2 separate regions of the Homo sapiens genome follow, and region 1 is linked to region 2. Evidence: fine-mapped expression QTL. A gene starts in region 2. The other region holds a variant in brackets. All regions are shown on one strand. Distances are between the middles of the regions. Region 1 overlaps DTWD2 (DTW motif tRNA-uridine aminocarboxypropyltransferase 2). Region 2 holds the start of DTWD2 (DTW motif tRNA-uridine aminocarboxypropyltransferase 2).

Region 1 (5,384 bases), 23 kb before region 2:
TTGCTATAAATTAGAGAAAATACATTAAGATTTAGGTTAGTATTACATTACTATATAAGAGAATACAATAGTGCTACAAATAAGCCACTGATTTTGATGCCTTTCCCCTAAAAAAGTGGTTTTCATCAATGCAACACCTATATACAGCTAAGAATTGAGTACAACTGAAAGTACCAGAATGACAAAATTCCCATCACGAGGCAATTTATTTATGGTGACCTGCCGCATTAACACATGAAAAATTATTAATTTGCCGATAACTTCTGAATCCAAAAAAAAATCCTAAAAGAAGCTGGATATTAGCAAAACAGACTAATTTCATAAACAGTAATGATATTTCATGGAGAAGAAAAAGGAAGTGGGATTAGGGAGTAAAAATAAAAGAGGGAATGAAAAGGAGAAGGGAGAGGAAAAGAAGGGACAGGTAAAGACAAAGAATTTAACATTTATTGCACACTTTTATGTTTTAGGCACTATGCTAAATACTTTAATTCTCACAAAACCTGTCAGCAGGAGGTAGTATTTTTAGCCTAACTTAAAGATGATGAAACTAAGGCTTAGAGAGGTTAAGTAACTTTTTCAAGAGAAAACAGAGCTGGGGCTAGAGCTTGGTTCTGTCTGATTCCAAAATGCATGCCTTTAATCAACACATTTGACTGAGTCCACATAAGCAGTTAATGTTCAATGAAAAGTCTTAACACATAGTTCTATCCAGCTGTCCTAGAACCCAGAAGACCTAGCACTAGAATTAAAACATTTAGAGATAAATAAACAAACGTGAGGGTCTAAAGAGGATCCAGAAGCAAAAGATCAAAGCCAAGATATTCATAAAATTCCTCAGTATAAAATGGCTAAAAAGTAATTAAGGATATGTGGTTAAAGATACCGTAAGAAATACGAAGAGGCTGACCCACAGGAAGCTAACAATATAGTAGAGAAAAAAGACAAAGTGAGGAGTTAGAAGAAGAAACTATTCAAACTTGGGAGATAGCTAGAAGGATAAGAAATGGTTTCATGCAAGACATGGAACTTGAGCTGGACCTTGAAATAGAGTATGATTGCAGAAAGCACAGATGAGGGAGGAGCTTTTCACAGAGACAGAATAACAGAACAAAGGCATGGAGCCAAACATTAAAAAGCACCTGTTTTGGGGGAGCAGTTCAGTGTAGCTGGAGAAAGGGGTGTATGGAGGAGGAAGAGATGAGTGGACAGGCTGAGGACTGACCTGCAGGACTTGGATGTTACACAAAAGATTCTGAACTCCCTTCTTTACCTAAAATATAAGCATTGAAGTTCTCCAGGAAAGGAATAAAATGAGCAGACAGACATGTTAAAAATATAAAGAACTTCATTAAAAGGGAATTGAACAGATGACAAAATGGAGTTTAGAAAACTACTTCAATTAGCACAGGACTGAAAAAATTCATTGCCGAGTGATGGCACAGAGAGAAGCCAGGTACTAAAGAGTAGTTTAAATACCACCTCCCCTGTAAAGTTCCAAGCAGGGGTCCCTCCCACCTCTGCACTCCTAAATCACACTATTCATGTTATATTACAATTATTGGCTTACCTGTGTTTCTTCCCTTAAAGATCCTTATGGTAACAACCAACCTTCATTCATTTTAATACCCCCAGTACCTAACTTGGTGAAAGAAGATATAAGCATTTGCAGGCCAGGTGCAGTGCTTCACACCTGTAATCCCAGTACTTTGGGAGGCCGAGGCGTGTGGACCACTTGAGGTCAGGTGTTCAAGACCAGCCTGGCCAACATGGTAAAACCTCATCTCTATTAAAAATACAAAAATTAGCCAGGCGTGGTGGCTCACGCTTGTAATTCCAGCTACTTGGGAGGCTGAGGCAGGAGAATCACTTGAACTCAGAAGGTGGAGTTGCGGTGGTTGCAGTGAGCCGAGATTGCACCACTACACTCCAACCTGAGCAACAGAGCAAGACTCCATCTCAAAAAAAAAAAAAAAAAAATTTGCAGAATGAAACATCTCAGATGTGTTTACTCATTAATGAGATATGACTTCAGGATGAGATTGGTTCCAAATTATACTTCATATAAGGCACCAAGTTGTGGTCATTTGGTGGCTGAAAGAGATGCCAGGGGAAAATTCCTCTACTTTGCCCTCTCCCTCTCCCTCTCCTTCTCCCCACGGTCTCCCTCTCCCTCTCCCTCTCCCCACAGTCTCTGTCTCCCTCTCTATCCACGGTCTCCCTCTGATGCCGAGCCGAAGCTGGACTGTACTGCCGCCATCTCTGCTCACTGCAACCTCCCTGCCTGATGCTCCTGCCTCAGCCTGCCGAATGCCTGCGATTGCAGGCGCGTGCCGCCACGCCTGACTGGTTTTCGTATTTTTTTGGTGGAGACGGGGTTTCGCTGTGTTGGCCGGGCTGGTCTCCAGCTCCTAACCACGAATGATCTGCCAGCCTCGGCCTCCCGAGGTGCCAGGACTGCAGATGGAGTCTCGTTCACTCAGTGCTCAATGTTGCCCAGGCTGGAGTGCAGTGGCGTGATCTCGGCTCGCTACAACCTCCACCTCCCAGCCGCCTGCCTTGGCCTCCCAAAGTGCCGAGATTGCAGCCTCTGCCCGGCCACCACCCCGTCTGGGAAGTGAGGAGCATCTCTGCCTGGCCGCCCATCGTCTGGGATGTGAGGAGCCCCTCTGCCCGGCTGCCCAGTCTGGGAAGTGAGGAGCGCCTCTTCCCGGCCGCCATCCCATCTACGAAGTGAGGAGCATCTCTGCCCGGCCGCCCATCGTCTGAGATGTGGGGAGCACCTCTGCCCCGCCGCCCCGTCTGGGATGTGAGGAGCACCACTGCCCGGCCGCAACCCCGTCTGGGAGGTGAGGAGCGTCTCTGCCCAGCTGCCCCGTCTGAGAAGTAAGGAGCCCCTCCGCCCGGCAGCTGCCC[T/C]GTCTGAGAAGTGAGGAGCCCCTCCGCCCAGCAGCCGCCCCATCTGGGAAGTGAGGAGCATCTCCGCCCGACAGCCGCCCCGTCCGGGAGGTGGGGGGCAGCCCCCGCCCGGCCAGCCTCCCCGTCCGGGAGGTGGGGGGCGTCTCCGCTCAGCCGCCACCCCGTCCGGGAGGTGAGGGGCGCCTCTGCCCGGCCGCCCCTTCTGGGAAGTGAGGAGCCCCTCTGCCCGGCCGCCACCCCGTCTGGGAGGTGTATCCAACAGCTCACTGAGAACGGGCCATGATGATGATGCGGTTTTGTCGAATACAAAAGGGGGAAATGTGGGGAAAAGATAGAGAAATCAGATTGTTGCTGTGTCTGTGTAGAAAGAAGTAGACATAGGAGACTCCATTTTGTTCTGTACTAAGAAAAATTCTTCTGCCTTGGGATGCTGTTGGGGTATGGTGTAAGATCTATGACCTTACCCCCAACCCGGTGCTCTCTGAAACATGTGCTGTGTCCACTCAGGGTTAAATGGATTAAGGGCGGTGCAAGATGTGCTTTGTTAAACAGATGCCTGAAGGCAGCATGCTCGTTAAGAGTCATCACCACTCCCTAATCTCAAGTGCCCAGGGATACAAACATTGCGGAAGGCCCCAGGGTCCTCTGCCTAGGAAAACCAGAAACCTTTGTTCACTTGTTTGTCTGCTGACCTTCCCTCCACTGTTGTCCTGTGACCCTGCCAAATCCCCCTCTGCGAGAAACACCCAAGAATGATCAATAAAAAAAATAAATAAAAATAAATAAATAAATAAAAGAAAAAGAAAAAAAAAAAGAGATGCCAGGAAGAAGTATCTCTTAATTCCTTGTTTTTCACTTGCCACTGGGCATTATGCACATACCACTATTTCTCTTGAGAAACTCATAAAGATATCAGCTACGGTTTGGGTGCAGTCATGCATTGCCTAGAAAAAAACCCTGCCCAGAAAAATACCTTAATACTATCAAAATCCCACAATTTCTCCTAACATCTGTATTAGTTTCCTAGATGTACAGTGGGATTTGGCCGTTTATCATTCTGGCAAATTTACAAAAGTAAACCTCAAAAAATATGATAAAATGTTCAAGTTTAAAAAAGCATTGAACAGTTATCTGGTATATGTGGGTGCGCAGTGGTTGTCATAAAGGGTTATGAGGAATTTCTGTATGTTTCATTTATTTCTGTAAAGTGTGACTTTTTCTTCTGAGTATACACCTCTTTTGTGTTCAGAAAAAATATATATTTTTAAGAAGCATTGAATATCTGTCACCTCAAAGTTACTCCAACAATCTGTGGTTTTTAGATCTTTGCAACAGAAAAGATGTTTAATATTTTCTTATGATCATACTCAGGCAAATTAGTTGATGATATGCTATAATGCCAGTCTTATATCTTTAGTACATTACATAAGGCAAAGTAAACTATAGAAGGAAAAGTTGATAGGAATGATACCTAAGTTAATTAAACTGATAAAAGTTATCACTATCAAAATCCATCTCCTAGTATGTTGCTTTCCCTAACAGTTCTCCATAATTACAAATTAAAAGTCAATCAGAGGCCAGGCACAGTGGCTCACACCTGTAATCCCAGCACTTTGAGAGGCTGAGGTGTGAGGATCACCTGAGGTCAGGAGTGCGAGAACAGCCTGACCAATGTGGTGAAACCCCGTCTCTATTAAAAATACAAAAATTAGCCAGGCACGGTGGCAGGTGCCTGTAAGTCCCAGCTACTTGGGAGGCTAAAGCAGGAGAATCTCTTGAACCTGGGAGGTAGAGGTTGCAGTGAGCCAAGATTACGCCACTGCACTCCAGCAGAGCAACAGAGGGGGACTCCATCTCAAAAAAAAAAAAAGACAATCAGTAACTCAAAAAAAAAAAAAGTCAAATAGTAACAGAAGTATGGGTTCGCAATTCCAAAACAACTGTATGTGTAGATTAGGGTTGAACAAATAATCAAACATGTTGCAGATAAAGAGAGTCAGATTTCTTACTGTCAAAGAAATAAACTACAATTAGAGAAGGGAGGAAGACTAGAATGAACTCTGTGGTATTGGATGAAACTCATGGTTTCTTTACATAAGTGTAGGTGTACATATAGATTTAGAAATAGATATAGGTATATGCATGGGTTAGTATATACACAGAAATCCTAGATCTGTCCACTAATAAGATAAACATCTCAGTAGCAATAAGCACACCAAGCACCCGGATCTTGGTTTTGAATATCATTTTACAATAAACCAGGGCTTCCTGAAAAAGTGGTTGATTCTAGGGCTGGGGCAGGGAAAATATAAGATAAGCCTGGATCATCTTACAGTGTCAGAAAGTAAGAAAGTTCTCAAAAAAGGATAAGCCTGTCAAAAGGTTCCAGGAACCAACCTGAAAGAGTTCTCAATGACCCAGGAGGGAACAATTTGAGCAATAAAAGAAATAAAAATAGTATTGGATTA
Region 2 (5,384 bases):
CTATATATTCTATACACTAAACTCTCGTACATACTGTTTCCTCAACCAGAGCTCACTTTTTCCTCCCTCAAGCCCTCTCCTCAGCCAGTCTCTTCCCTAATTAATCCTAAATATTAGAATCCAGATTAAATATTTCGTTATGTCCTTCAGTCTCAGCTTACATGTCACTTCCAAGATTTCCCAGATCTTTTCCTCATCTCCACCATACAAACTTAGGGTTAGGAGCACCTTTTTATATGTTCCTATAACACCTTACATATACCCATCTAAGAAAGAAGCTGATAGTATAGAATTCAACAAGAAAAAGACCACATGCTTATGTGCATTTTTATATATATATATATATATATATATATACACACACATATATACATACATATACACACGTATATTACACTTTATTTCCTAACAAAATTAAAGACTCTAGTAAAATCTCAGAAGCACTACTTGGTGAACATGCATCCTTTTGCCTTCTGACTCTTACTCCACGACGGCCTAATTTCGAAGACTGCCAAAGGATATCAAACACATATAAAAAGTGTTTAAATCTTTCCACTCTGATGTCATATAATTTAAATAAGAATGTTTAAATTAGCAAGATGATTTTAACTTGAACAAAGTTATTTTACAAATACTTTTACTTTGAAAAGTTCAGAAAACACTTTTTGCTGTTTTCTTCAGAGCTTCAAAAATTTGATGCGGTTCATTACCTATAATTTGAAAAAACTGCCCTACATCATAGGATTTTTAATCTGAGGGCTCCCCATTTAAATAGATATGCCACTTTCCACTAGATCCTGATATTCAGGAGAACTGAAGTCATCTCTTTTTCATCTTTGTATTTCATAGCCTATCACACCGTCTGGAAGAAGGGTCTCCAAAAATATTTGTTGAACAACTGAATTTTACCAAGTAGTTCAACAAATCTTTTGTGCACCTACCATGTCCCATGACCCTCAGCCTTCTTATGTTATCTCAAATAATGCTAATGATACATACTCTGGGGAGATCAGCCAAGGTTTTGTCTTTATCTGAAAAAAAAAATTATATACGTTTGGGAATGGGGGATAGGAAAGGTATTCTAAGAGGTAAATGGAATACAGGCAGGTTTTGTAAACAAGACATACATAAAGGACAGAATACATTTATAGAATCTATATCTTGCAATAATAAATTACAAGTTTGGGATCTTTTAAAGAATATTCCATTCATATTTAAGATATGTTATATTTATAATGAGCAAGATTCTGCTGAAAAGTTAAACTGAGTTTGCACTTCCTGAACAAAGCTAATTTCTGGAACTCCCCTAGGCTGTGACATTTGTAGTAATGTGTTCAGAGAAATGAATACAGTTTAAGTAAATAGCCAAATAACTGTGACTCAATGATCAATCAAATCTAAGAATGCATTTTTAAAACTATTTTAACCATAAATGTAAAGAAGTTCACCCAGGGTACTAGTAGAACTCTAATAGCATAATGAAATAAAATATAAAAAGCCATCAATTCATTTATATTTTATTGACAACACCTAAATATTCTCCATAATTCTAGAATTATATTCTACCTAGTTAAAGCAAATAAAATGCATAGCAAGAGGGAGGAGAGCTTTTCACAGGTAGCAAATTTCACAAGAAATAAGCAAAGTGTAGAATTATAGTCTACCTAATTAAAGCAAATAAAATGCATAGCAAGAGGGAGGAGAGCTTTTCACAGGTAGCAAATTTCACCAGAAATAAGCAAAGTGCAGAAATGTTGGGGAAAATTGTAATCCTAAGGTATTAACTAAACGTAACTGAAAAAAAGATTAAATTCAGCAAGCCATTTTTTTAAAAAAGCATCATAAAATAAATCTCTGCTAAACAGATTTTTACCTATATATTTATAATTAACAATTCTGAACAGACTAAAAACTAAATAAAACTAGCACAGTAATTTAGCCTTTGATTTATATTTGAAACACTTTTCCTCCAGTATCCTATTGAGACCCCTCCAAACATTTTTAAATGCTTCCCCAACCCCCTCAGACGACTTGTTTAAATTAATTGTATTCACAAACCCCTATGTTCAAATTCACAGTCCCTTCTAATCACAAATTTTCCATCCTCCTCAGAGGTTTACTGAGCGTCAACTATACATAGTACATTTAGAAAATATAAAAACATTCTACATTCAAGATCCTTTCCTCTGAAGTCTTACAATCCAGCCCTAGGAAAAGGTCAAAATGTCCAAAGTGTGATACTCCAAGTATTCAAGCAGTAAAGATCTTCAACCATATTCAGTCCTTCTGTTCCCCTTCTTGGAATGCTTTTCCCCTGGCTGGATTCTTCTCATCTTTCAAATCTCAGAGATAGTTCATGACACCATTGAGCTATTTTCTACAGTAGCAACCCATTCCTTTCCTTCACTGCTTTTTTCCCAGTTTGTAATTACATATTTGATTGCTTGTTTGCTGGTTTATTATCCGTATCCAGTAAGAGAATACTCTACAAAAACATGAACTCCACTGCATTGTCAGTGATTACCAAAGCACTCAATAAACACCTGATAAATTAATGCACAGGTCTGGTGTTCCGAAGAAAGGTCTGAGCTAGACACACTGGGATATAGATGATAATTTACCATGAAAACTGATTTTATAAATTACCAGTGGGACGTATGTAGGGTTTGAAGAGAACCTAGAATGAACACCTGAAAAGGCCCTATATTTAGAGTTCTGGTAGGATAGGTAAAGGAGACTGTCTCTCTCCTCCAATCCACTTTATGCTTTTTAACTGTGATATAACTATGCCACTTAAATATGACTGTGTAACTATTTTACAAGTATTACTGTCATCACCCCTTACTTCCCCTATTGGACGCTTAAGTTTCTTGGAAACAGAACTGATGTCTGCTCATCCCATGATACGCTCAGCATATTGCAGGAAGTAAGGTTAGATAATCATGAACCTGGAAAAAGGGCTTCTTACTAGGTAGCTGTGCCTGGCATTTCCGAGATTTCCAACGTGCACCCGCCAACTCCGCCGCCCTAATCGCAGAGCTGCCCGAGCCGCCGACTCCCCGGCAGGGGGCGCCGCACCCTCCTCCGAAGGCCGCTGCCGGCTGCAGTCCCCGCCCCCAGCCCCGCGGTCACCTGCAGCGGGTGCACTCAGGCCTCCGCTCGGCCGGCTCCACCGGCAGCTCCCACAGCCCGTCCGCACTGTCGTCGTCCGCCTCTGCGCCCAGGGCAGCCGCCGCCGGCACTGCGCCGCCCTCCCGCCGCTCCTTGTCGTTCGGCGTCTGAGAGCTTGAGGCCCCAGAAGGCCGCGCAACGGGCTCCTGGAGTGTTCGTGCCTCTTTCTGCGACTCCATGGCGGACACTCCGGTCAGGCCGTGGCATTGAAGCCCGGCTGCCGCCGGGGGGCGCCACGCGCTGTAGAAACCGGCCCGCGCCGCGTAGCGCAATGCCCGCACGCCACGTACGGGGGGCGGGTCTCCGAAGCCCAGGCTGGAGGTCCCACCCTGCCGCTGGGAAGGAACGAGCCCATTGGTCCGTGCCCAGTGGGACCGTTCACCTAGAACTGGGTAGGCAAGTGTGGGCAGTGTTGGAGTGCTGGTGAGGTTAAGTAGCGTCATTGGGAGAGGTAAGGGAAACCTCCCCGAGAGGACCCCAGTACCAAGCCCGAATTTAACTCCTTTAAAAGTTAAAATAAAATGGAATTCTGCATTTTCCGCCTTGGGATGGCAGTTTAAGAATTTGCAGGATTTCCACGCGTGCATGCATCGCAGGTGCGGCAGCTGATGCACTTATTATTTAAAGGCCAACAAAGGAGAGGTTATATCCACTGGGAACTACTCACAGCTGGTCCGTTTCCTTATGTGAATTTCCTGCTCTTCTATGTCTTGTGCTAATAAGACATCAAGCATGCTATTTTACACTGGACACCAGATATTTGTTAAATTAGATTTTTAGATCGTCCCCGATCAGGAAGCAATAGGAGAGCTGGCCCGGGGTACCAATAGGTTTTATGTATGAGGAAACAAGCCCTAGAAAGGTAACGTTGCCCAGGTATTTAACAACTACTGGATACGGCGGTATATAGCACAGCAGCTGTTTTTTAAAAGCCAAAATGAAATCTATGTTAGAATGAAGGCAGAAATACTATTTACCCAAAATGGGTATCGAATTCCTTTTGTTTATTAATGCTTTGTGTTACTTCCAGCAATACACAACATTAAAACAGAATTAAGCTTGGTTTTGATCAATCATGTGAATTAAGCTTAGGAATCACAGTTGTCTTAACTCTATAGTTGTAATAGATTAAATGTGAGGCAAAGTAGACAACACAGTAATAGAGCAAATACTGTATTTCTTAAAATGTTTATTTCACATTAGATTTTTCAGTCATCTTAAAATCAAGTTTGTGAATAAAATACCGTGCTGTTTTCAACTATCCTACGTTCTTTCCCCCCGGAAACAGCACCTCTCTTTTCCTTTGGAGCGTCCTATGTGAGGGATAGAAAAAGGCTGAAACACCCACCTGGTGATGGACGTAGAGTGGGAGAAAGAACTAGCAATTATGCCATTTGGAATCGGAGGATAAACAAAATCCAGAAACTGTAGGAAAGGAGATGAATCAGAAAATTCATCTTGTCTGTAGATTTAGGTTGGGGAACCAATTCTTTAACTGCCAAAATTAAATTCTCATGTGACTTATCTTTAAACGAAAGGAAGCTGCTCATCTTTAATTTCAAGAGGTGAAATGTGCTCAAGTCCTCTAAGGTCCCTTGAGACTCCCAATTGTGTGGTGTGAGAAGACAGATGATAAGGAAAAAAAAAAAAACTTTTTATCTAAGGAATGCGAGCAGTCATGTCTCACTCTCCCTTGAGCTAAATAATTACCTCTTGAAGGCACTTGCTATGCAGGCCCTAGACTGACACCGAGTAGCCATAAAACGCCGTATACCCTATAGTTCAACAATATGTATAGCCAATCACTAACCAATGTTATTTCTGTAAATAAATGACACTTCCTGAGACATAGCTTTTGTAATGCCCCCCTCTGCTGATTCGTTCTCTTTTCTTTAAAAACTCCAGCCCATTTTGTTCTCCAGAGCACTCTCCACAGCAACCTGGAAGTACGACCTAGGCTACAGTCCTCAACGTTGGCCCAAATAAACTCTCTATATTAATTTTGCCTCTGCTCCTTCCTTTTAGGTTGATGTGAGCCTACTTACTTGGGGCTTCCTTTTAACACCCCATATCAGATTATTGGCTTTACCCTTCAAAGTATTCAAAATCCAAACATTTATCTCACCTACTACTTCTGCCCTGGTTCAAGCCCCCGTCATCTCTTGCATAGAATATTGCCAAAGACCTAAGTGGTCTCCTGCTCCATCTCCGCT

Evidence for each region. PIP is the estimated chance that this variant, and not a neighbour inherited with it, causes the effect.
Region 1: its variant is the best candidate, but not a certain one, in a credible set for the expression of DTWD2 in fibroblasts (GTEx, PIP 0.64).

The regions. Positions count from the first base shown.
Region 1 is chr5:118,962,257-118,967,640 of GRCh38, forward strand. All of the region lies in intron 1 of DTWD2 (DTW motif tRNA-uridine aminocarboxypropyltransferase 2), which reads right to left. Among named protein-coding and RNA genes, the nearest start is that of MIR1244-2, 9.6 kb to the right of the region's middle. The variant T/C (reference allele first, on the strand shown) is at 2,917.
Region 2 is chr5:118,985,162-118,990,545 of GRCh38, forward strand. DTWD2 (DTW motif tRNA-uridine aminocarboxypropyltransferase 2) reads right to left here and starts at 3,386. Exons shown (of 6, transcript NM_173666.4): 1 at 3,133-3,386. The coding sequence starts at 3,350. RefSeq lists a silencer at 2,970-3,299.